Homo sapiens: one gene and its partners. The protein of the gene in region 4 purifies or fractionates together with the protein of the main gene of each other region. This does not show direct contact. Each region holds a gene or a part of one and is shown on either strand. Other genes may lie near its edges. The genes, in order: NPLOC4, DNAJC16, RMDN3, KCNK16, EMC8, LSR and GRAMD1A.

The links.
Region 1: the proteins of KCNK16 (region 4) and NPLOC4 purify together in Homo sapiens (affinity purification with mass spectrometry; 3 studies listed by BioGRID and IntAct, with this or other methods). This does not show direct contact.
Region 2: the proteins of KCNK16 (region 4) and DNAJC16 purify together in Homo sapiens (co-immunoprecipitation; 2 studies listed by BioGRID and IntAct, with this or other methods). This does not show direct contact.
Region 3: the proteins of KCNK16 (region 4) and RMDN3 purify together in Homo sapiens (co-immunoprecipitation; 2 studies listed by BioGRID and IntAct, with this or other methods). This does not show direct contact.
Region 5: the proteins of KCNK16 (region 4) and EMC8 purify together in Homo sapiens (affinity purification with mass spectrometry; 2 studies listed by BioGRID and IntAct, with this or other methods). This does not show direct contact.
Region 6: the proteins of KCNK16 (region 4) and LSR purify together in Homo sapiens (affinity purification with mass spectrometry; 2 studies listed by BioGRID and IntAct, with this or other methods). This does not show direct contact.
Region 7: the proteins of KCNK16 (region 4) and GRAMD1A purify together in Homo sapiens (affinity purification with mass spectrometry; 3 studies listed by BioGRID and IntAct, with this or other methods). This does not show direct contact.

Annotation. Positions count from the first base shown.
Region 1 is NC_000017.11:81,609,613-81,613,112, forward strand, and holds part of NPLOC4 (nuclear protein localization protein 4 homolog), read right to left. Parts: intron 647-3,500; coding exon 598-646; intron 1-597. UniProt on the Homo sapiens protein: The ternary complex containing UFD1, VCP and NPLOC4 binds ubiquitinated proteins and is necessary for the export of misfolded proteins from the ER to the cytoplasm, where they are degraded by the proteasome.
Region 2 is NC_000001.11:15,547,348-15,550,847, reverse strand, and holds part of DNAJC16 (dnaJ homolog subfamily C member 16 isoform 1 precursor), read right to left. Parts: intron 2,579-3,500; coding exon 2,420-2,578; intron 1-2,419. UniProt on the Homo sapiens protein: Plays an important role in regulating the size of autophagosomes during the formation process.
Region 3 is NC_000015.10:40,741,755-40,745,254, forward strand, and holds part of RMDN3 (regulator of microtubule dynamics protein 3), read right to left. Parts: coding exon 3,223-3,500; intron 2,474-3,222; coding exon of another isoform or gene 2,396-2,473; coding exon 2,293-2,395; intron 1-2,292.
Region 4 is NC_000006.12:39,319,903-39,324,186, forward strand, and holds the start of KCNK16 (potassium channel subfamily K member 16), read right to left. Parts: upstream 2,801-4,284; 5' UTR 2,639-2,800; coding exon 2,426-2,638; intron 1-2,425. UniProt on the Homo sapiens protein: K(+) channel that conducts voltage-dependent outward rectifying currents upon membrane depolarization. Voltage sensing is coupled to K(+) electrochemical gradient in an 'ion flux gating' mode where outward but not inward ion flow opens the gate.
Region 5 is NC_000016.10:85,782,545-85,786,044, forward strand, and holds part of EMC8 (ER membrane protein complex subunit 8), read right to left. Parts: intron 1-3,500. UniProt on the Homo sapiens protein: Part of the endoplasmic reticulum membrane protein complex (EMC) that enables the energy-independent insertion into endoplasmic reticulum membranes of newly synthesized membrane proteins.
Region 6 is NC_000019.10:35,252,002-35,255,501, reverse strand, and holds part of LSR (lipolysis-stimulated lipoprotein receptor isoform 2 precursor), read right to left. Parts: intron 1-3,500. UniProt on the Homo sapiens protein: Probable role in the clearance of triglyceride-rich lipoprotein from blood. Binds chylomicrons, LDL and VLDL in presence of free fatty acids and allows their subsequent uptake in the cells.
Region 7 is NC_000019.10:35,024,323-35,026,969, reverse strand, and holds the end of GRAMD1A (protein Aster-A), read right to left. Parts: intron 922-2,647; coding exon 829-921; 3' UTR 501-828; downstream 1-500. UniProt on the Homo sapiens protein: Cholesterol transporter that mediates non-vesicular transport of cholesterol from the plasma membrane (PM) to the endoplasmic reticulum (ER).

The DNA of each region.
Region 1 (3,500 bases), on a different chromosome or scaffold from region 4:
AGTTTTTCTTTGTGTGCCAGTTATCTTTTCAAGATTAAAATGAATCTCTATTAAACACAAAACGCTCTAAGTCAAATGAGTTTCAGGAAAATTGTGCAAAAAGAAATGCCACAAGATGAGGCAAGAGATGCCTCATGAAGAAAATCGGGCTGGCCTTCCTGCTGTAAACCCAGCATTAACAGTTCCAGTCGGCATTATTACGGTAACTCTCAGTCTCACCAGGACAAACCAGTAGAAGAGATGTGAGATTCAAGGCAAAGTAAATCAACAATGATAAGCACGGAGGCCGACAGGCTCAGCTTTGTGTCAGATCGGAAAAGGATTGTCCAGGGAGCCCGCTGTAAATGCTGCCCCTTTATCACAGCCACACAAATGCTTCAGCCATTCATAATCCAGCGAGAAGGTCACTCCCATAAATAAAGGCTCGTCCTGTGTGCAGCTTGCACTAGGGGAATATGAGGCCCAGGGCAATAAATAGGTAAGTTCTTTGAACCACTCACTACAGCCAAGTGCGTGGACTCAGGGCAAGCACTTAAGACAGCTGTCTACCCGCAGCCCCCCACACTGGCCCAGAACTTACTCCGCAGAGACTCTCACCTCTAGAGGGACGCAGTGCACGCATTTCCCCAAAGGGCCGTGGCGGCATCTGAGGAGAGTACAAGGCAGAAAAAGGCAGAGCAGTGAGGATGTCTGTGTTCCGCTGCTGCTGTCTCACATGCACGTCCTACTTTAACAGAGTGTTTCCCTGCCCACGTGGAGTTATATTCCAGATGGCACATGGATAAACATTTATATTTTAATTGTTGTTTTGTTTTGTTTAAAGACAGGCTCTCACTCTATCGCCCAGGCTGGAGTGCAGTGGTGATCGTGGCTCCCTGCAGCCTTCACCTCCTGGGCTCAAGCACTCCCACCTCAGCCTCCCCGAGTATCTGGGACTCCAGGTGTACACCACCACACCCAGAAGTTTACTACTTATGTTGATATGAATTAGAAAAAACTGACCCGCACATCAAACCTGTGACTTCATGGGTATCCACTGCTTAAAATGACACAAACCAGGCCGGGCGCGGTGGCTCACGCCTGTAATCCCAGCACTTTGGGAGGCCGAGGCGGGTGGATCATGAGGTCAGGAGATCGAGACCATCCTGGCTAACAAGGTGAAACCCCGTCTCTACTAAAAATACAAAAAATTAGCCGGGCGCGGTGGCGGGCGCCTGTAGTCCCAGCTACTCGGGAGGCTGAGGCAGGAGAATGGCGTGAACCCGGGAAGCGGAGCTTGCAGTGAGCCGAGATTGCGCCACTGCAGTCCGCAGTCCGGCCTGGGCGACAGAGCGAGACTCCGTCTCAAAAAAAAAAAAAAAAAAAAAAATGACACAAACCAAAGATAAAAGTGAATGAACTCAAAGTCAATGTAAGTAGTTTATTGGCCAAAGGCAGTGGCTCACACCTCTAATCCCAACACTTTGGGAGGCTGAGATGGGTGGATCACCTGAGGTCAGGAGTTAAAGACAAGCCTGGCCAACATGGTGAAACCCCATCTCTACTAAAAATACAAAAATTAGCCGGACGTGGTGGCAAGCACCTGTAATGCCAGGAACCAGGGAGGCTGAGGCAGGAGAATTGCTTGAACCTGGGAGGCAAAGGTTGCGATGAGCTGAGATTGTGCCACTGCACTCCAGCCTGGGAGACGAGAGTGAAATTCCACTCAAATAAATAAATAAATAAAATAGTTTTTTTTTTGTTTTCTTTTTTTCTGAGACGGAGTTTCACTCTGTCACCCAGGCTGGAGTGCAGAGGTATGATCTCGGCTCCATGCAACCTCCGCCTCCTCGTTTCAAGCGATTCTCCTGTCTCAGCCTCCCAAGTAGCTGGGACTACAGGTGCACACCACCATGCCTGGCTAATTTTTGTATTTTTAGTAGAGACGGGATTTCACCATATTGGTCAGGCTGGTCTCAAACTCCTGACCTCAGGTGATCCACCTGCCTCAGCCTCCCAAAGTGCTGGGATTACAGGTGTGAGCAACTGCGCCTGGCCAAGTCCATTTAAAGAAAAGTGTTAAATAGGCCAGGTGTGGTGGCTTGCGCCCTGTAATCCCAGCACTTTGGGAGGCCGAGGCGGGTGGATCACAAGTCAGGAGATAGAGACCATCCTGGCAAACACGGTGAAACCCCGTCTTTACTAAAAATACAAAAAAATTAGCCAGGCGTGGTGGCGGGCGCCTGTAGTCCCAGCTACTTGGGAGGCTGAGGCAGGAGAATGGCGTGAACCGGGGGGACGCAGCTGGCAGTGAGCGGACGTCGCGCCACTGCACTCCAGCCTGGGTGACAGAGCGAGAGTCCATCTCAAAAAAAAAAAAAAAAAGAAAAGTGTTAAATAAATAATAACAAAGCTGGTACGTGAACATGGCAAAGGGCCTGAGAGCGGTGCATAAATAATCCAAGTTTGGAAAATACCTACTTCATATGCATTTTGGGAAATAACAACAATGAAAAAACCTTGTCCCACGGCTTTCTAACATTTTCAGTCACAGAAGCCTTGGGAGCACAACACGCACAATCTGAAGGAGAGGTATGCTGGTTTACGAGGGCGCCGGCGGCCGTCCCTCCGGGGCTCAGTCAGACCCCTTTCTAAGTGGGGTCAGAATTCTTACATGCGTATGAGCCCTGTGCTGCGGAACAGAGGTGGCCTCTGTGCTTCCTAATAGGCAGGATCTAAGTGATGATGGCTCAGAATTCTCTCACACACACACGCTCTCAAAAGCTGCTAATGAAGCCATGAAGACACAGATCATGCAAGCAAGCCAGTGCCAGGCCCCTGGGAGGAGACACAAATGGAAGAGGCATGCCGGCTAATGGCTATGGCTACAAAGTGGCTCCATGCCAATGGCAGGAGAGCACCATTTATGGCTCTCTGATCTAAGACATAAAAGTTGCTAATGCAGCATTTGGAATCCCAATACCGCAAAGTCAGCACCCCGTCACATCTACAGAGTGATGCATTTTAAAAAAGACCCCACTGCAGAGACAACCTTCGCTCAGACAATTTCACATGGCCAAGTATAAACTCAGATCCTTCTCACTGGTTTATTTAAAAGGAATTGCAAAAAATCTAAAATAAACAATGTACATATGCATAAGCACTTCATATAGCCCCAGGTGAGGAGGGAATATTCCAAGGCACAGCATCTTCTGCAAGTGAAATGCTTGCTGCAGGGATGGAGAGCGCACACTAGTGTGGCAGGTCAAAATCATCCAACCGCTATGAAATGAGAGACACAGCACTCACCTCACATGGATGCGCACACACAACCACCTGCCCCTTCCCTCCTCCCTCCCCTGCAGCTGCTGATTAACACCCCACTCTGCACGGGAATCAGCATCTCCAGGGGACATCACAGTAAAGACTTGGTGTGAGGCCCCCAACTCCCCCAATACCTTTCCAGTCTCTTTGTACCCAAATGCTTCAAAATTTTTTATGGGAACATATTTTGAGGTGGA
Region 2 (3,500 bases), on a different chromosome or scaffold from region 4:
GGTTTGTTTTTGCTGCGAGTGATTGGGGGTGAAGCACACAATGATGGTAGGTGGCCTGGTGCCCTGCCTGGATTCATGCACTGGCACTGGCAGCTTCACCCACTACTGCTTTGGTACTATCAGTGTAAATGTCAACACAGTGAAAAAGGCAAATCGTGTCTTGATATGATCTCACAGACTTTCTCTTGAAGGATCTTTGAGAATCCCCAGGAGTCTATCAACCACATTCTGAAAACTGCTGTCCTAGAGAACTCTGTACTTAGGTTATGATATTCATTGCAACACTATTCCTCAAAGCCCCCAATGTCCACCAACGGAAGAATGATTCAATAAATTATAATGGCCATAAATACCATATAGCAATGACAACAAATTACCTAGAGCAACAGGAAACCACTGGTGCTACTAGTGATCATTAAGCCACCTGCTGTTGTGAAAACTGAGTTTGTTAAGCATACACTTGATATCCACAAAGAGCAAGCTGGTAAAGCAGCCATTCTACCAATAATTTTGTAAATGTATTTGATTTACAATTTTCCCCAGTGGGATAAATAAATATAATTCTCAGAACTATAAACTGTTCCGAAAGACCAATTTAGGAAATCCTCATCCATTTACCCTGGATTGAGATTATCTTCTCTTTTCTATTCGGACACTGGTATTTGTTTTCTTCCTGACTTGCAGCACCTTCTCGTCTCCATCAGGCACCCCCTTGTCTTGTGTGCCGGTGGCTGTTCTGAGTTTTGTCCTTGGCCTCCTTGGCCTTACTTTACATACAGCAGTCATCCCCTAACTGCAGAGGATACGTTCCAAGACCCCCAGTAGGTGCCTGAAACCACATAGTACTGAACTCTATACAAACTATGTTTTTTTCCTATACACATACCTATGATAAAGTTTATCAATTAGGCACAGCAAGAGATTAACAACAACAATATTTAAATAGAACAATTCTAACAATATACTGTAATAAAGTGATGTGAACATGGTCCCCCTCGCTCAAAACATCTTTTTTTTTTTTTTTTTTTTTGAGACGGAGTCTTGCTCTGTCGCCCAGGCTGGAGTGCAGTGGGCGGCGTGATCTCAGCTCACTGCAAGCTCCGCCTCCTGGGTTCACGCCATTCTCCTGCCCCAGCCTCCCGAGTAGCTGGGACTACAGGGGCCCACCACCACGCCCGGCTAATTTTTTGTATTTTTAGTAGAGACGGGGTTTCACCACGTTGGCCAGGATGGTCTCAATCTCCTGACCTCGTGATCTGCCCGCCTCGGCCTCCCAAAGTGCTGGGATTACAGGCGTGAGCCACCACGCCCGGCTTCAAAATATCTTCTTGCACTGTAGTCACCTATGTTTTGGACCTGGTTGACTGTGGGTAACTGAAACCTCAGAAACTGAAAAAGGGGTAAGTGGGGTGGATCAGGGGAGACTACGGTATTATGCCGGGAAGATCTTACCCTACTCAGGACTTCAACCACTAACCATTTACTGATGATACACCAGTTTCTATCCCCAGCCTGTATGCTTTTCTTAAGATCTCGATTCCTATACCCAACTGTAGAAAGGACTTCTCCCCTTCTATTTCCTACAGGCAGCTCTAATTCAGTATGTCCACAGCCAAAGTTCTTATCTTTCTAAACCTGCTCTTCTTTCTTTACGGTCCACTTTCCCATCTGGTTTCCATGGTTTCAGGTACCCTTCTGTGTTCACAGGACACCTGAGCTGCCATTAGAGTGGACTGCCTCTAGCAAGATAGTACTTGTTTCTCTATACCCTCAACAGTACTATTTTAACTTAGAAAATCTTTGACAGTTGGATGGGTGAAAAAAGGTTAATGTTCTCTGATTACTTGTGAGATTTAATTTTTAAAAATGGTTATTAGTCTTCTCAGAATTTTATGATTTTCTTGATTAAAAGCTCTTTAGAAATTAAAAATATCAACATTTTAATATTTGTTATAAATATTCCCCCAGTTTTTTAACTTTACATTTTAAAGTATTTACATAAAAACATAAAATTTAGAGTCAAGTTATCAAGATTTTCCAAGATTTTTCCCCAATGCTTTTTAACCCTTTCCTACCTTAAGATCAGATAAATATTCATCTGTACATTCTCTCAGTTAGTTTGTGGCTTCTTCTTATTCCTTTTTATTACTGTTTTACATTTAACTTTTAAATTCATTTTGGAAAAAGATTGTTGGTTTTCCAACAGGAGCCCTTTAAAGGTGCTAAAATTTTTAAACGTTTTAAATTAAAAATTTTAAAGCAAACGGTACCAAGTTAGATAAAAAAATTCATTAAAAAATTTTGTGCATCTGAAGGAAGATCCTTTCCTTCAGCCACTTTGTTCAATTTTGCTGTTTATTTACATAAAATCTTGGGATAAAATGTGAAGAAAATCTTAACCAAGGTGACCCTCACGTACCTGGATAACATCGGCAGGCCTGTTTATATGTTCTTTAAAGACCAAGAGGGTAGGGGCGTAGATATTGATGTTGTACCGCCTTGTCATCTCTTCCGTCCCTCTCAAACCCACATATACATATCCAAATGATAAATAATCTTTGTATGCAAAGGCAGTCAACTGTTAGGGCATAATAGAGAGGAAGAAAATAAAACTACAGCAAAGATGTAAATGACAAATCAAGTAGGGCTTTTTCACATCACTGAGCAGAGAGGTACATGCCAGCTTACACAGCTCCACTAGGTCTTCCGTATCCTTGTATACTTCCATTCTATGGTGTTCCATGTGCAAAAACTGTACCAACAAAGTAAATACAAACAACTCTCTTCTTTTTCATAGCTAAAGCAAAATAACGATCTTCTTGAAATCTGTACTGGTCAGGAGGCATGAGTTTGGGGATTACCTGTACCGTAATTAGGTAAGATGGCAGTGACCATGCCACTGATAACACCTTCCTCTCCGTCTCATGTCACAGTGACATGAGAGGTAGTGGGGAGTGTAGGTAGGCTGGGAGTGTAGTGGGGGAATCATTCACAGGGCAGGTCTGAAGTCAGTGGGAATCGCGCTCACCATGCTGTAGTGAGAACTTGGGTGGGTTATATGACTGCTCTAAGCCTCAGTATCTTGCTCTATGCAAACAGGGATAGTGGCCAGGCGTGGTGGCTCATGCCTTTAATCCCAGCACTTTGGGAGGCCGAGGTGGGCGGATCACTTGAGGTCAGGAGTGCAAGACCAGCCTGGCCAACATGGTGAAACCCCATCTCCACTAAAACACAAAAATTAGCCGAGCGTGGTGGTGTGTGCCTGCAGTCCCAGCTACTCTGGAGGCAGAGGTGAAAGAATTGCTTGAACCCGGTAGGCGGAGGTTGCAGTGAGTCTAGATCACACCACTGCACTCCAGCATGGGCAACAGAGTGAGACTTGGTCTCCGAAAAAAAAAAAAAAGCCCATCACAGTGGCTCATGCCTGTAATCCCAGCAATTTGGGAGGCTGAGGCAGGTGGGTCACAAGGTCAGGAGTTCGAGAGCAGCCTGGCCAACAT
Region 3 (3,500 bases), on a different chromosome or scaffold from region 4:
AGTAGCTGGGATTACAGGTGTGTGCCACCACACCTGGCTAATTTTTGTATTTTTAGTAGAGACAGTTTTGCCTTGTTGGCCAGGCTGGTCTCAAACTCCTGACCTCAGGTGATGCGCCCACCTCAGCCTCCCAAAGTGCTGTGATTACAGGTGCGAACCACCGTGCCCAGCCAAGAATTCTTTGAAGAAAACAAGTTTGGAAGGGAACATGGAGAAAATGGAACAAATGTAATGCATTGAGGTGGTAAACTGGCTAATCTGAAATGTTTTCCTTTTTTTATTTGAGACAGGGTCTCTCTCTGTTGCCCAGGCTGGAGTGCAGTGGTGCAATCTCAGTTCACTACAACCTCTGCCTCCTGGGCTGAAACAATCCTCCTGCTGGCATGTTCCACCACCATGCCTGGCTAATTTTTTAAGTTTTTTTTTTTTTTTTTGTAGAGACAAGGTCTCACTATATTGCCCAGGCTAGTCTCTAACTCCTGGGCTCAAGCAATCCTCCTGCCTTGGCCTCCCAAAGTGCTAGGATTATAGGCATGAGCCACCACACCTGGCCACAAATGCATTCTTAAGACAACTGATGCTGTGAAAGACTCTACCTCTCTTCCCAAAGAGAGGGACCACATGGCCCCACCAATGAGGGACGCTGCCTCTTTGGGGATTTCTCTCTGCCCTCTTCAAAGTACTGTCTCACTAGGAAAATAATAGCAAAGAATGAGACAACTAGTTCCTGCCAAGCTAGACAGACAGTGTTGTAGACAAGACATTGCCTGAGACCCCACAGAATGACTGCCTCCTGGTGGTCCAGCTCCTAGAGATACAATGAAATAAACTTTATACCCAGTAAGGATAATTCTTAAAGGCTGTGATCTCAGAGCAGAACCTTCAAAGACATTCCATAGTCATCTGACCTCCAGCAGGTAAAGCTTTGTCCATGGGTGCTAAGCTCAGGAGGCCAGACCAACCAAGTGCTGCCCTGCTAACCACTGCCTCCACTTCTGTCTTTGGGGTTCATGCTGGCTACTAGCACTAATAAGAGATGACCAATGATCAAGAGGGAAAGGAAAGGTTGTTGACATGAAGAGTCCAAAAATCAGCCCAAAAGCTGAGAATCCTCATCTGAAATTTAGGAGGGAAAACAAACTTTTGGAGAGAAAAAGTAATCATAAATAAGCATCTTTTGTTAAAACTTCCAGGAATTTTTCTGAGGGTCTACAGAGACATCCTACTCAATTGGTCTGTTCTTTCTCCATTGACAGAATTCTACAAATGTTTAGAATGTTAACTTTGAGGTACTGTTTGAGTATACATTATCAAGGATTCAATAATATTTGTAAGGCTGTACTTACAATAGAAAGGTAGACAAATCCATTTTAGACAGTTAACTGGCCAGGCACAGTGGTTTATGCCTGTTATCCCAGCACTTTGGGAGGCCTAGGTGGGTGAATCAGTTGAGGCCAGGAGTTCAAGACCAGCCTAGCCAACATGGCGAAACCCCATCTCTGCTAAAAATACAAGACTTAGTCGGGTATGATGGCATGTGCTTGTAATCCCAGCTACTGGGGAGGCTGAGGCAGGAGAATTGCTTGAGCCCAGGAGGTGGAGGTTGCAGTCAGCCGAGATCAGGCCACTGAACTCCAGCCTGGGCAACAGAGAAAGACTGTTTAAAAAAAAAAAAAAAATAGATATTAACTGAACCACAGACCTAGAAACCCATTACCCATTGATGGTACCTGACTCAGTGTGTGGAGTTCAGCAGGACACATCAGTCTCTAAAGTCCAAGCATTCTCTGACCTCATGACAGATAAGGCCAAGCCCTGAGCCTGGCACAGGTCAGATGCACCCTATCCTCCAGGGTGGAGCCTTTGCCAACAGACTTGCCAAGTGGATTCCAGAGTCTTCTAAGCTAGCTATATTCTTAGAACACCTGCCCCACCAGCTCAGAAAACTGAAACCAGATTTCTAAGCAGCAGCAAAAAACCTCAGGTTAAGAAAAAAGGTTTTGCCCTCTGTGGCTAGAGTGAGAAAAACGAATAACATTGATAGGATACAACTACTCCTAGAAACACATGCACGTGTGTTACTAATCAGCATGATATACAGATAAGCAAAGACTGCTCTCTTCTTCCAGAGGAGAAAGCAAGGGTCTTTGGGAGCCAGAGTTTGTCCCTAGTGGGTAACTGAGCCACAACTGCTGACAGCATCTTGGTGGTTCCCCGGGTCCCCAGGCAGATGGGCCAGCCCCACCCCTGAATCAGTCAGTCACCTTCCCACAGGAAGCTGTCAGCACTTACCATCTAGGGCATATGACTTCTTCTCGCTCACCTCCTCAGTGAGCTCACACATGTCACTGTAGGCTCGGGCCAGGCGCCAGAGAAAGTCCTGCCGGCTTCCATACTGCAGACCAGACAGAAACGGGTGAGGCCCCTTTTTCCTCAACTGTGGAGAATGGGGGCCTTGGCCTTCCCCCACACCCTAGGTTTGAATTTCCAAGCTAGTATGTTACAGTCATCAATATCAGGCCAGCTCCTACACGCAGCCTTCCCCCCAGTCATCCCTTCCCACGTGCAGTTAATGTATGACACATTCTCTGTCTAGCCAGTAGCTTGCACAATTACGGGGTGAGGGCATTCTGACCTCCTAGAACTGCTGGGAGGAAAGGTCAACTCCAAGATGTCATAAGGCACGAGAGGTCTTTTGCTGACACATGAAGAAAGTGTGAAAGGAAAAGGGAAACTTCTAACTTCTGGGGGGGGGGCATTTATACCTGGGTGGGCATATATTCTGTCAGTGAACCTGACAAGAGAATTATGGTTGAGTGACCTACACAGTTGTCGCTTGTAATGGGGCTGGCAGCTTGGACTCTGCCTCAAGGGAAATGAGGAGAAAAAAAAAATACAGTTCTTTCCACATTTCCCCCTAGAGGTGAGAGGTAGAGCTCTTTCTGCAGTAGCTCTACAGAAAGCAGAGAACTACACTCCCCCTCCCAAGAGGGGAGGCAGCTCTGGGGCAAGCAGTACACTGGCCCTAGGATCCACGCTGGGCCTCCTTGGAAGAGGATATGTGACCTGGGGGACAGATGCAAAACCAGCTGTCTCACCATTTCTCGTCCCATGTCACCTTGTAGGGGCAGTAACCACACGGGCCTTCATTCCCCAGGGGTCAGGAACAGAGAGATGGAGGGAGGGAGGGAAGGAGAAGGAGACAGGCAGCTGGAGCCTCACCACCAGCTTGTTGTTGAGCAGCAGCTGGAAGCCCTCCCGCTTGCCTTGCTCATCACCCCTGTGCAGCTCGTCGGCCTGCTGCAGGAGGGGCAGCACATCCTCCAAGCCTGAGGAACCTCCAGCCTCCAGGGCACTGGAGGCACCTGAAGCTGCCTCTTCCTCCAAGTCAAGAGAATCCTTTCTCCCCATCTTCACAGTCTCACAGCTCACTTCATCTTCCCCGTCCTCACTTTCTTTGTCAGAGTCCCGCTCATTGTCAGACTCCGCATTGGCTGTTG
Region 4 (4,284 bases):
CTACAACACCTCCCTTCGCTGCCCCACTGCTGACAACCTCCAGTCCCTGGGCCCAGCCGCCTTGGAGAATAGGCAGGGCTCTCTCCTCCCCTGCCCCAACCCTCTCCTCTTTAATTGTGGACTGTCTCAGAGCAGCAGCACAGCCTTGCCACCGAAGAGCCCCAAAGGCAGGAGGAAGCCAGGGACACAACAGTTCTGGCTTCCAATTCCTATGGGAACCAGTTCCCGCTGGCTGGGTGGGTGTGCTTAGATCAGGGCTGGGGTGGCCCTGGTGGGCCAAGCCAGTCAGGGCATCTGCGGTCACAGGCTGTCTGCTTCTCCTCACTTTGACGGGAACTGGCCTCTTAAGATGTGGACTTTGGCCTCCCTTTCTTTCCCACATCCACAAAGTGGCCAGGGCCCAACATTCCCGAACATGCTCGTTCTCTGGAGACCCTCACTTCTGGGGGCAGTACTCTAGTCCTGGGCCATCCCCCACTGCCAGCCTGCAGCCCTCATCCTGCTGAGGGTGCTGAGTGCCGGTGGGCGGATGCAGGTGGCCATGGGTTCTGACTTCCCAGTTTTGTGAACCTGGGCAAGCAGTGTTTCGTCACAGAGGCAATGTTTAATACTGCTTTTAATACTAGTTACTCAACTCGCCCTGTGCGTCTGAGAGTTCAACAGGAATGTGTCTTCTTCCAGAATCTCACCCCAGTGTTCTTCTGCCACCCAGCTCAACTGCCCCTGGCAAGGAAGGGTCTCTCCTGAGGCTGAGGACTCTCAGGGAAAGGGATGTCCTGTCTTCCCTGGGGAGGCCCCAGGGGCTAATCAGTGGCAATCCCTTCGGGGCTGCAATCAAGCGGATGGCCTCCTTTCGTCTTGGTTAGCAGAGCGAGTTAGGTTGCAGCTACCAACCCTTCCCACGCCCTCCAGCTTGGCTCTCACCTCCAATGCAGAGCTGAGGGAGGAGATTTCAGCTTCTCCAGGGCCTCTGCCTTACTCCCAGGGTTTTGGGAGGCCCCTGAACTGTTCTCAACCCTGATGTGGTACTATGGTCCCCCAACTTTGACTAACCTTATCCATCAGGGAGAAGAGAGTAAAACCTGAAGCTGGAGGCCTCACTTCCTGGTCTCTCACAGCTACAGAATGTTGTCTGTGACCACCCAGCCCACGCATCATCTTCTAGGCCAGCTGTTCTCAGTCTTCAGGGTCCTCAACATCACCTGGAGAGCCTGTTGACACACAGCCTGCAGGACCCATCCCTAGAGTTCCTGAGTCGGCAGGTGCGGAGTGGGGCTTGACATCTCCAGTTCTAACAGGCTCCCAGGTGATGCTGATTCTGGTCCCGGGACTACACTTTGAGAACTGCTGCTTCAGGTTGCATCCTGCCCCCAGCACTTATGCTAATTTGTGTGGTGAAGACCCGGGGCTCCAGAGCCAGAGGCCTGGGAGTGAATGCTGTCTCTACCAGTAGCTGTGCAGCCTTGGTCAACATATTCTACCTCAGTTCCCATCTACAAAGTGGAGATAGGGATTGTAATAGGTAATTATGAGAAAACACCTGTAACACGCTCAGTGTCAGGTGATGAGTGGATCATGATTGGATTAAGCTGGTCATGACCACCCTGCTTCCCACTGTTTTAGGCACATTGTGAATGCTCAGTAAATGCCAGTTATCAAGGTGATTTGGCACTTGGTCTGTTCCTTTGCAGGGGATGTTGTCACTCGCTCCAGTGCCTATTTCAGATGCATTCACCTCCCTCCACAACACCTGGTTTTGTCTTGTTTCTGGGAAAGAGGAAACCAGAAAGGACCCAGGCAGGGGGTGACCCACTCTGTTACCAAGAGAGAGCCCCATTTGGGTGCAGTGCTGGCAAGCTCAGTCACCTTGGCCATTGCCCACCAAACCCAACTCCAGGTGCAAACAGGCCAGGAAAGGACAGCTTGGTGGTGGCTGCTCCTGGCATTTATCTGTGTCTCCCACCCGCAGCCGTCTGCCCAGGGATATGAGCTGGGAGAGGGCAGAAGGAGCTGCAGCCCTGGAGTTGGGGAAGGGGAAGTATGAAAGTGTGGGAGGAGGAAATTTGGATAGCGTTGATAACGCTGACATATAGTTCCCATTCATCCAGCAAGTGACAGCTTAGAGAGTGCTTTTAATCTGCTGTCAAATGTCTGCAGTACCGATATGGTTATTCTTGTTGCCTTATAGATGAGGCTGTTTGGGTCCAGAGAGGTTAAGTGACCTGTTCAAGGTCACACATCAATCCAGTTGTAGACCTGGGGCCAGAATCCAGGATTAGATCTCACCAGGCTCTCTGTTCCCACCACACTCTTCTTCCAAATGGGGCATCAGCTCCTGGGTGAGGACTGTGGATCTGCCACAGGAACCCCATTCCACCAACCTTCCCAAGCCTCTCCATCCCAATCCCACATCGCTCCCCTTCACCTGCACAAACTGCTCCATGGCCCACTGGTCCAGGCAGGTGTAGTTCTCCAGGAAGCGCAGCTTCTCCAACTGAAACTGGTCCCTGGACTGAGCCTCCGCCTGCCTCTCTAGCAGCTGGAAGATAGTGGCACCGAGCAGCAGGTAGCAGACATAGGCCAGCAGCAGGGGCAGCACCCGGCCACCCCAGCAGCTGCAGAGCCCAGCACTGGGCATGCTGTGGCCAGGACCCTGCCAGGGCCGTGGGGCTGGCTATGGGGGAGAGGTGGGAAACAGGTGAGGAGTAAGCACCTAGGGGCCTGTGCCCAGGCTGCCGCCTGCCCTGCCCTCCTCCTCGGCACAGGTGTCTGGAGGCTGGGGAGACTGTTTGAACAGTGCGGCTCAGCTTGGCTGCACTAAGTGCTATGCTGTGAGTGCAAACAGGCCGGCCACCCCCACCCGGCCTTTGTTTCCATGGACAGCAGCAAGTCAGTGTCAGGGACCCTTCAAAGAGACCTACCAGGTTCTCCTGAGTGCTTCATGTCTCTCTCTCTGTCTCCAAGTTGGATAGATGTTTCTGGGCTAAATCGGATAGGTGTGCTCACTCTGTCCAGGCCCCAGTGGGCTCTCTCGGCCGCCCCCAGCGTCTTCACCCTTGAAGGCTGTAAGACCCCAGCTTAGGAGCTGGGAAGAGGTCAGAATGGGTATGAATAAACCTTCTACTCAGTTGCCTTGGCTACAAAATGGGGCAGGATAATTGAACTGCCTATTGGGGGAACCTCAGGATGAGTAAACTGCGTGACAAATCAGGGCAAAGTAAATAGACAGGTGATTGTCTCACTCAGCCTGATGGTAAGAGTATCAGGGTTGATTCTGCTGATAAGTTGGATTCATTGGTTTTATAACTCTTGCTAATTTGTCTTGCATGAAGCCCTCTAGTGGGTTACCTTCAGAGGATATGTCGGTGAAATATATGTGTGAATTAAAAAGAAACTATAAGTATATCCTGATCCTGGGATGGTAAGAGGGGCTGTCTCTGAGTGGATGGAATTGAGAGTGCTTTCCTTTCTCTTTGCCTGTGTGTGTGTGTGTACACATGCTTGTTTATGTACATGTATAACAGCTTTATACAGATATAATTCACATGCTGTATCGTCCACACATTTAAAGTGTGCAATTCAGTGGGTTTTAGTATATTCACAGGGTCTTCAAGATCCAGCCCTGTTGCAACATGTAACAGTACTTCTTCCTTCTTTCTGGCTGAGTAATATTTCATTGTGTGGCTATAACACATTTGTTTATCCATTTGATTTCTAGTTGATGGACATTTGGGTTGTCCCTGTTTCCTTCTATTAAGAACAAAGCAGCTATGAACCTCTGTGTATGAGTTTTTTTTGTGGACATGTGTTTGCATTACTCACAGGTACATACCTAGGAGTAGAATTTCTGGACTATCTGGCCACTCTGTATTGAACTTTTTGAGGAACTGCCAGGCTATTTTCCAAAGTGGCTGAACCATTTTATATTCTCACTAGCCCAGGGCGAGGATTCCAATATCTCTGCTGTGTTTTCTGCTGTTTCCTTTAATGAGCTGTGGCTGCAGACACTGTGAGTTGCCTGCTGAGTATCCTTTCCCTCCTCCCCAGCTAGCAGAACCCCGGCTTTGTAAGTGTTAACCCCAGGTAATTGAGCATAATTGGTCTAAGTCATAGTGCTAATCTTGCTCCCCTCTGTCTCAGCCCCTGAGAGCAGTGAAGTCACTGAAGACCCATAAGACAGTGGGCAAGAGGGCCAGGCTGAGGAGAAAGCCAAACAAGGCACCACAGTCCCAGCCTCAGCCTGGTTCCTGGGAGCTCTGGCAGGTGAAGTGCACCCCAGTGAGT
Region 5 (3,500 bases), on a different chromosome or scaffold from region 4:
AAACAAAAGCATTGAACCGGTTCCCTCTAGCTGCTGTCCAGCTTCCCTCCTCCCTTCCATGACTGTTTCTTCAACTTCTTTAACAAGCCGCTAGTCTTGCTCCATGTCCTCACCACAGCTCTGTGCAATCTGCCATCTAACCCATTCCCTTGCAGAGCAGCACTCCGGAAGTCTCCTGACCACTGCCTGATGGCCCCAAGACTGCTACCCCCTCAAAAGCCTCCCAGCGGGAACCCACCACTCTCAGGCAGGCCAGTCCATTTCCAGCCTCTCCGACCTGAGGCCACCTTTCCCTCTGCTCTTCCCCACCCTGCAGGCCACAGGTCCTTTCTCTGCCCTCCTTTCCTGCATTCTCCCTGTCATTTATTTCCTTCAGTCTCTCACCTTAGGCAGGGGCTTCTAAAACTGCTTCCTAACCGGTCTCATAATTTCTACGGTCACTCGCTCGCTCTCTTTTTTAAAGAGACAGGGTCGGCTGGGTGCAGTGGCTCACGCCTGTAATCCCTGCACTTTCGGAGGCCGAGGCAGGTGGATCACCTGATGAGGTCAGGAGTTCGAGACCAGCCTGGCCAACATGGTGAAACCCTGTCTCTACTAAAAATATAAAAACTAGCTGGGTGTGGTGATGCACATCTGTAGACCCAGCTACTCCGGAGGCTGAGGCAGGAGAATCGCTTGAACCCGGGAGGCGGGGGTGGCAGTGAGCTGAGATCATGCCACTGTACTCCAGCCTGGGCAACAGTGAGACTCCACGTCAAAAAAAAAAGAGACAGAGTCTCGCTTCGTTGCCCAGGCTGGAGCATGGTGGCTATTCACAGGTGTGATCATGGCCACAAACTCCGGGTCTCAATCAATCCTTCCTGCTCAGCCTCACAAGCAGCTGGGACCACAGGCACGTGCTACGAAGCTCAGCTTAGGCTCTTCTTATCCGATGTAACCTGAAAATTCTCCTGAACTAAATTTTCCTAAAACAGAACTTCCATCACGTCCCCTGGTGCTCACAGCCCCACAGACTACTGCTCACCACTGCCTGCAAGATGAAGGCTGCTATTCTCAGGCTGGCAGAGGCAGGCCTTCGTTACGGTGAACTGAGCTACCGTGTGCAGCCACAGGGGCAATGCTGTGTCTTCAATGTCAGGAAATCTGCCTACATGTCATCTGCCTCACATGCCCGTCTTGTTTCACTCACACTGTCCCGTCTGGCCCTCCACACCAAGGCCTCCTTACTGAATTGCTTCCCCTCTTTCAGTGCCCAGAAGACATGCCACCCTCACCACAAAGCCCTGCTAAACCCTGGATGAGACCCCCTGCCCTGCTGGAGTTCTGAGGATTTATTTCTAAGAGGCTCTAACACAGAGTCCATGGCACGTGCTGCTTTCCTTCTGTGCATCCTGTCTGCCCTGCACAATCAAGGCTTTCAGCTTTTTGTGGCAGGGACCAAGCCATCCATCTTTCTTTTTTTTTCTTTTTTTGAGATGGAGTCTCACTCTGTCGCCTAGGCTGGAGTGCAGTGGCGCGATCTCGGCTCACTGCAAGCTCTGCCTCCCGGGTTCACGCCATTCTCCTGCCTCAGCCTCCCAAGTAGCTGGGACTACAGGCGCCCGCCACCACGCCCAGCTAATTTTTTGTATTTTTAGTAGAGATGGGGTTTCACCGTGTTAGCCAGGATGGTCTCGATCTCCTGACCTCGTGATCTGCCCGCGATGGCCTCCCAAAGTGCTGGGAATATAGGCGTGAGCCACCGCGCCTGGCCCCATCTTTCTTTTAACAGCCATAAAAATACATGCATTATTGTGAGTTATTTAACAAAGCACACTATATACAATTACAATCCTTCCCTTGTGATTAGGCTAAAAAAAATTAATAATGTTTTTAAAAAACAAATTATTTTATATGATTATTGTATTTTCGTTTTCAAAATTGACAAAGTGATGTACTGATTATAAATCTGCAGTATTAAGAAAAATATGACTTAAAAATGTGACTGTGTTAAGAAAAATATGACTTAAGAGGGAAGGGGAGGTTTTCAGGTAGAAGCCAATCGTACTGAAGAAAGCAGTGCGATGGTGGCTCCTAGCGCAGAGGGAAGGCAGTGCTTCACTGCACTGACCAGGACTCGGTGGGCGCCAGGTCCCCACAGCACTAACGGCAAGTGGTGAAGAGTGGGTACAGAGCCCTCAGGAGGCCTGCCCATGTACCCACCTCTGCCTGCTCCTGCATTTGCTGAGGAACTTGGAAAGCAAAAGGCAGGGCCGCTTGCCATGAAGAGCTTGCAAAGCCCTTACCCTCCTACTTAACACTGATCATGCTGGTTGTTGATTTTTATTGGGGAGAGGGTAAGGAAACACTCATTAAAAAGAAAAACTACCATTGCAGATGCTCAAGAACTCTTAACATCTGTCTTTCTATTCACTGATTTTTGAGATGGGGTCTTGCTCTGTTGCCCAGGCTGGAGTACAGTGGCGAGATCATGGCTCACTGCAGCCCCAACTGCCCAGGCTCAAGTGATCTCCCACCCCAGCCTCCCTTGTAGCTGGGACCACAGGCGTAGGCCACCATGTCCAGCTAATTTTTGTATTTTTTTGTAGAGATGAGGTCTTGCTATGTTGCCCAGACTGGTCTTGAACACCTGGCTCAAGAAATCCTCCTGCCTTGGCCTCTGAAAGTGCTGGGATTACAGGTGTGATCCAACATGGCTGGCCTAAAATTTATTATTTTAAAAGAAGTCTAAAAATTTGTAGTTGGCCGGGTGTGGTGGCTCATGCCTGTAATCCCAGCACTTTGGGAGGTTAAGGTGGGTGGATCACTTGAGGTCAGCAGTTCGAGACCAGCCTGGCCAACACGGTGAAACCCCGTCTCTACTAAAAATACAAAAATTAGCCAGGTGTGGTGGCAGGTGCCTGTAATTCCAGCTACTCAGGAGCCTGAGACAGCAGAATACTTTGAACCCAGGAGGTGGAGGTTGCATTGAGGCGAGATCGTGCCACTGCACTCCAGCCTGGGTGACAGAGTGAGACTCTGTCTGCTCTGCCACCGCCCCGCCAAAAAAAAAATGTGTAGTTAATGAACTGTCAAAGTATTTGAAACAGCTGCCAACTTTGCATTTCTCTGTCTTAGGCACTGAATCTCCAATACTGATCCACTTGATCCTGAATGAAGACTGCCACGCTGTGGTTCCTGCTAGTCAGGAACTCCTTGTTCCTAGGAAGAGCCAGCTGCCAACTGAAACTGCAGGCACCCTGAAGGCAGACCACTCTGCTCACCCTCAACAGCACCATGTCGGGCCAGCGTGTAGGTGCCATCTTACAATGTGTATCTAAAAGCTTCCTCCTGAGTGTCTGCCTCAGGCCAGGGCTCTCTGCCGGGCACCGAAACCTACTCATATCAAATGCTAACTATGAAGCAAAACACTGGCCAACAATGAATCATATAATAAAACTTGATGGAATGACCTAAAGTTTAGGAAATTCATAAAAGTTATAAACACTACGTTAGAACAG
Region 6 (3,500 bases), on a different chromosome or scaffold from region 4:
GGGATTACAGGCATGAGCCACCGCCCCTAGCCCCCACCGTTTATTGAGCTCTTACTATGTGCTGGGCCCCTCTACACACATTCTTTCATTGAATCCTCATAGAATTCCAAACTAGGTTCTCCTAAATCCCCAGGTTTGCCACAATGCCCTCTTCGTCCATCATTTTTCCACCTGTATCTTTTTTGAGAGGGCCTAGCTTGGTCGCCCAGGCTGGAGTGCAGTGGTGCGATCATGGGTCACTGCAGCTTCGAACTCCTAGGCTCAAGCAATCTTCCCATCTCCAGAGTAGCAGGGTGTGCCATCATGCCCCGCTAAATTTATTTTTTTGTAGTCTCTGGGTCTCACTGTGTTGCCCAGGCTGGTCTCCCAGCTCCTGTCCTCAAGCAATCCTCCTGCCTCGGCCTCCTGAAGTGCTGGGATTACAGGCATGAGCCACCAGTGTCTTCAGATCAGACCCTGACCGTGCCTCTTCAACACTGGAGCTCAAGAGCTGGTCCCTGCTATAAACAAAAGAGGTGGACAGGAACCGCCTGCCATGGCAAACAGATCATATAGGCCAGGGGTTGAAATCTGGCATCTTGTAGGCCGAGGCTGGACCTCACTGTGTTTTGTTTGACCTGTCTGACATTTTCAAAACTCACAAAAAATATAGTTTTCCGGCTTCTTTTGATCCATCCTAAGGTCTGGGCACACCTTCTTCCTGCAGGGCGTACCCTGTTCCTGGTCTTGGGCTGGCCGTGATCTCATCCGGGCTGAGCACTGCTTTCATTGTTTTAGGTCGGGGAGAAGATGCCAGGTCTCCAGTGGGAACAGCAGCCAGGCCTCCTCCACATCTCCAACCTCTGGTTCCTTCTTTATACACCGCAAAGGTGACCTTCATGATTTCAGAGGTCCCATGGGCTCTCTGCTGCAGTGCAGCTGGAGGTGGGGGCACTTGGACCCCAAGGAGCCCGAGGAGGTGGAACAGGGCCTCCTGTCCAGGTGCTGGTCCATCACCCAAAGCATGGAAGGACAAAGCAGGGAATGAGCCACCGGACCGGAGGGATGCCTGGAGTGGACAGCCTTCTACCTTATCCAGGACTATTTTCACTTTTGAAACCAGGATAGGCCGGGCATGGTGGCTCACATCTGTAATCCCAGAACTTTGGGAGGCCAAGGCAGGCAGATCACCTGAGGTCAGGAGTTTGAGACCAGCCTGGCCAACATGGCGAAATCCCATCTCTACCAAAAAGATACAAAAATTAGCCAGGTGTGGTGGTGTGCACCTGTAATCCCAGCTACTCAGGAGGCTGAGGCGGGAGAATCACTTGAACTTGCGAGGCAGAGGTTGCAGTGAGCTGAGATTGCACCACTGCACTCCAGCCTGGGCAACAGAAAAAAAACAACAACAACAGAAAAACCCCAGCACAGTGGGTGACCCTAGGAACACCACGGGGAGTCCACTTTTCCCCATCCTCAAAGCTGAAACAGAGGAAGCTCCTATGGCTATGGGATTTCCTGAAAGGACACACACAATGGATGTTTACACTCAGGGCCTTGATCAAACACAGGCCCAGGTGGGGGTGGTTTGAAAGACCCAGGCCTGTGAGGCCCCTGGAGCATGCAGGGCCCCTTCCCCGAGACAGAGCCTGGGGGGTCATCCTGGACTTTTGCGTCCAGCAGAGGAAGCACCCTCAGTATTTGGCTTGTCCTGGCAGAAGCTTAGCAGTCACGCCTGGTCCAGGCAGGCACAATCCCTGGGTTAGAGAGGAGGGGGCCTAAGCAGCCCTGTGACCTCAATAACAGTAGGATGCTCATGGCTGAGCTGCCCACAGAAATTCAGGGCAAGCAAGCCTGGTGCCTCCTCTGAAACAGGACTGACATAGGCTCAGCCCCTGGAACCCTGCTTCCCATCGATCCTCTAGCAGAATGTGCTCCAGTTCCTGGCTTCTTGGGGTCTGCAAAGGGATGCTCCCTTCCCCGCTCTGCCCCATGCCCAACTTTAAATTCTTGTTTAAGACAGTGAACACACACTAAGACATGAGGTACGTGAGCCTTCATCCCTGGCACCCTGCCCCTCCCCTTCCTCTCTGCCTTCTAGGTTCTGTAAGGCCCAGGCCCAGGCCCTCCTCAAATCATATTCACAGCCCAAGTCATTCCATGTAGCACATCACCCAGTGCTATTTTCTTTTTTCTTTTTTTTTTAAGACGGAGTCTCACTGTTTCCCAGGCTAGAGTGCAGTGGCGCAATCTTGGCGCACCGCAACCTTCGCCTCCCAGGTTCAAGCGATTCTCCTGCCTCAGCCTCCCGAGTAGCTGGGATTACAGGCGCCCACCACCACGCCCGGCTAAATTTTGTATTTTTAGTAGAGATGGGATTTCACCATGTTGGCCAGGCTGGTCTCGATCTCCTGACCTCAGGTGATCCACCCACCTCGGCCTCCCAAAGTGCTGGGATTACAGGTGTGAGCCACTGCGCCCAGCCTATTTTCTTTTCATTTCAAGACAGGGTCTCACTCTGTCACCCAGGCTGGAATGCAGTGGCACGATCATGACTCACTGAAGCCTTGACCTCTCAAGCCCAAGCAATCCTCCCACCTCAGCCTCCTGAGCAGCCGGGACCACAGGCACATGCCACCATGCCCAGCTAATTTTTAAATTTTTAAAATTTTTGTAGACATGGGGTCTCATTTTGTTGTCCAGGCTGGTCTCAAACTCCTAGGCTCAAGTGATCCTCCTGCCTTGGCCTCCCAAAGTGCTGAAATTTACAGGCATGAGCCAATGCACCCAGCCTGGTGTTATTTTCTTTGCAACACTTAGTACTCTCTGACATTCTTATACCTTGACGGAGTCTTTTTTTTTTTTTTTTTTTTTGAGACAGAGTCTCACTCTGTCGCCCAGACTGCAGTACAGTGGTGCGATCTCAGCTCACTGCAACCTCTGCCTCCTGGGTTCAAGCGATTCTCATGCCTCAGCCTCCTGAGTAGCTGGGATTACAGGCATGTGCCACCATGCCTGGCTAATCTTTGTATTTTTAGTAGAGACGGGGTTTCACCATGTTGGCCAGGCTGGTCTGGAACTCCTGACCTCAGGTGATCCACCCACCTTGGCCTCCCAAAGTGCTGAGATTACAGACGTGAGCCACCGTGCCCAGACTTTGAAATTCTCATACTCTTTCTTTATCTGCTTATTTACTGCCAGTCTCACTCCACCAGAATGTCATCTCCTTGACGACAGAAACTTCAGCCATCCCAATCACCTCTATCCCCAGCACCAACGACACATAGTCGATGCTTGATAAATACCAAATGAATGAATGAATGACTGCCCCTTACTTAGTCCCAACAGGCACATCCTATCAGGAGGCAGCATTACAGTTAAGAACAAGGGGCCGGGCGCGGTGGCTCACGCCTGTAATCCCAGCACTTTGGGAGGCCGAGGCGGGCGGATCACGAGGTCAGGAGATCGAGACCATCCCGGCTAAAACGGTGAAACCCCGTCTCTACTAAAAATACAAAAAA
Region 7 (2,647 bases), on a different chromosome or scaffold from region 4:
AACCAAAGTGTCGTCTGGGATGGCACCATGAGCAACTCCTGGGAACTCGTTATAAAGGCAGAATCCCAGCCCTGCCCCAGACCTACTGAACCAGAAATTTGGAGGGAGGGGCCCACAGTCTGTTTTTCATCAAGCTCTCCAGGAGATTCGAATGCAGCTCAAGTTTGAGAACCACTGCCTTCTAACAACCCTGAGAGACAGCTACTGCCATTCTACCCATTGCACAGGAAAGCTCACTGGAGCTCCAGGGGGCTGACCTGCTGCATTTACACCACTGCTAGGAAGCAGGATTTGAACTCCAGCTACCACGGTCTGTCCCCGGAGTTCCTGCGTTGACCTCAGATGATGTAAAGCTTGTGTAAGATGCTGCGGGAATTCCAGATCGTTTCAGTGACTATGGCCCCAGAACACAGACAGAGGTCCCCTCCCCACCATGGCAGGATCTGAGTGCAACAGGAGGCTCCCACCCACTCCCAGGGCCCCACAGGCACAGCCACAGCCACTTCTGACCCTTTATTGGGGCACTGTCGGCCCCAAATAAATATAATACATTAAACCCAGAGCTGAGGGAATCGTGCACCCCAGGAGGCGCCCCCCACAACCTCAGCCGGGCAAAATAAGTTAGTGGGGGGCCTGCCAGAGGCCGGGCCAGCTCCCTGGTCTAAAGTGCATCTCGGTTCCGTGGTCCCCACGTCTGCACAGCCCCTGGTTGGGCCGTCGGGAGGGGCGGGTGGGAGATGCCTGGCGCTCACACCGTGCCAGCAGTGGCCGCCGAGGCTCTGTGTGTCCATCTGTCCATGTGGGGGAACAGCTGCGTGGCCGGGGTCCTCAGGAAAAGCTGTCATCGGGCCGGGGCTGGGTGTCAAAGGGAGGGTCTGAGACTGTGATGCCTTGGTGCAGCTTCTCCAGCGAGAACTTCATCTGCGGGGAGGAGGTGAGCAGGGTCGGGGGTGAACGCTGGAGGCTGGGGGGTGATGTCGCCCACCCCCACCTTGCCATTGAGAAACTGAGGACGGTCTAGAGGCCATACTGCCCCACCCCAGGGTCCCTTGGTGAAAAGAGCACAGCCATGCTGCACCCAGTTTAACTTCTCAGAGGCAGCAGAGGAAGGGGCTTAGTGTGTGCCTGTGACCCCGATGGCCTAGGTTCAAATCCTGGCTCTGCTGCTTGTTACCTCAGTTAACCTCAGGCAAGTCCCGTAACCACCCTGAGCCAAAATCCCCTCATTTGAAATACGGGTCTATAACACATCTGCTCCACAGGATTATTTCAGGGTTCTGAAGAGCACTGAGAACCTGGTGTACACTAAGTGCTCAGCACATGTTAGCTGTCACCATTACCCACTCTGTGACCTCGGGCAAGCTCCTGAGCTCCTCGAACCTCTGGATGCCTCATATCGCCTACCTATGTATAAAACCGGGATAACGGCCGGGCACAGTGCCTCATGCGTGTAATCTCAGCACTTTGGGAGGCTGAGACCGGTGGATCACTTAAGGTCAGGAGTTCAAGACCAGCCTGGCCAACATGGTGAAAGCCCGTCTCTACTAAAAATACAAAAATTAGCCAGGCGTGGTGGCGGGTGCCTGTAATCCCAGCTACCTGGGAAGCTGAGGCACGAGAATCGCTTTAACCTGGAAGGCAGAGGTCGCACCACTGCACGCCAGCCTGGGTGACAGATCGAGACTGTCTCAAAAAAACTGGGATAACAAGAGCATCTTCTCAAAGGCTGGCTGTGGGGATAAAGCAGTCATGCTTAAAACCTAGAACAGCCCAGCTGCAGGTAAGTGCTCAGTCTACATCTACTGTGAGCACCAATCTGTGACGTCAACTCTGCACCCTTAGCAGTTTGACAGAGAGGAAAATGATAAAAATTTAACTCAGGGCCAGGCGTGGTGGATCACACCTGCAATCCCAGGACTTTGGGAGGCCGAGGCGGGAGGATTGCCTGAGGCCAGGAGTTTGAGACCAGCCTGGGCAACATGGTGAGACTCTGGTCTCTACAAAAAATTTTAAAATTGGCCAGGTGTGGTGGTGCCTGCCTATAGTCCCAGCTACTCAGGATGCTGAGGCAGGAGGATCACTTGAGTCAGGAGTTCGAGGCAGCGATGAGCCATGATCGTGCCACTGCACTCCAGCCTGGGCAACAGAATGAGATCCTGTCTCAAAAGAATAAAATAAAATAACGCAGGATGGGGGGCCCTGCCTACCCTCTCTATGAGTGATGGGGCCTCAGCCTTCATCTCCTCCCCACCCCATCCTGCCCCGCCCTTTCCAGTGTGAGCCTCTCCCAAGCTTGATTTCGGGGGGCAATGAGACCCCTAAAGATGAGCCTTCTGATATGGAAGGGTCCAATGAGACAAGATTTTCACCGTCACCCACAACTTCAGCTCTGATGGCCTTGGAAATGCAGGCAATGCCAGACTCTGTTTCCCATCCGCTTTCCCCCTCGACACCTTCCCCGAGTGCCTAACACTTGCTCTGACCCACCACAACTGCTGGCCTGACACTTGCTCTGACCCACCGCAACTGCTGGCCTGACACTTGCTCTGACCCACCGCAACTGCTGGCCTGAGTCTACTGGGGCCTGAGGGAATTGTCGTGTGATGACATCACATTTATTGGGCATCTGCTTTGTCCCTGGCACTAG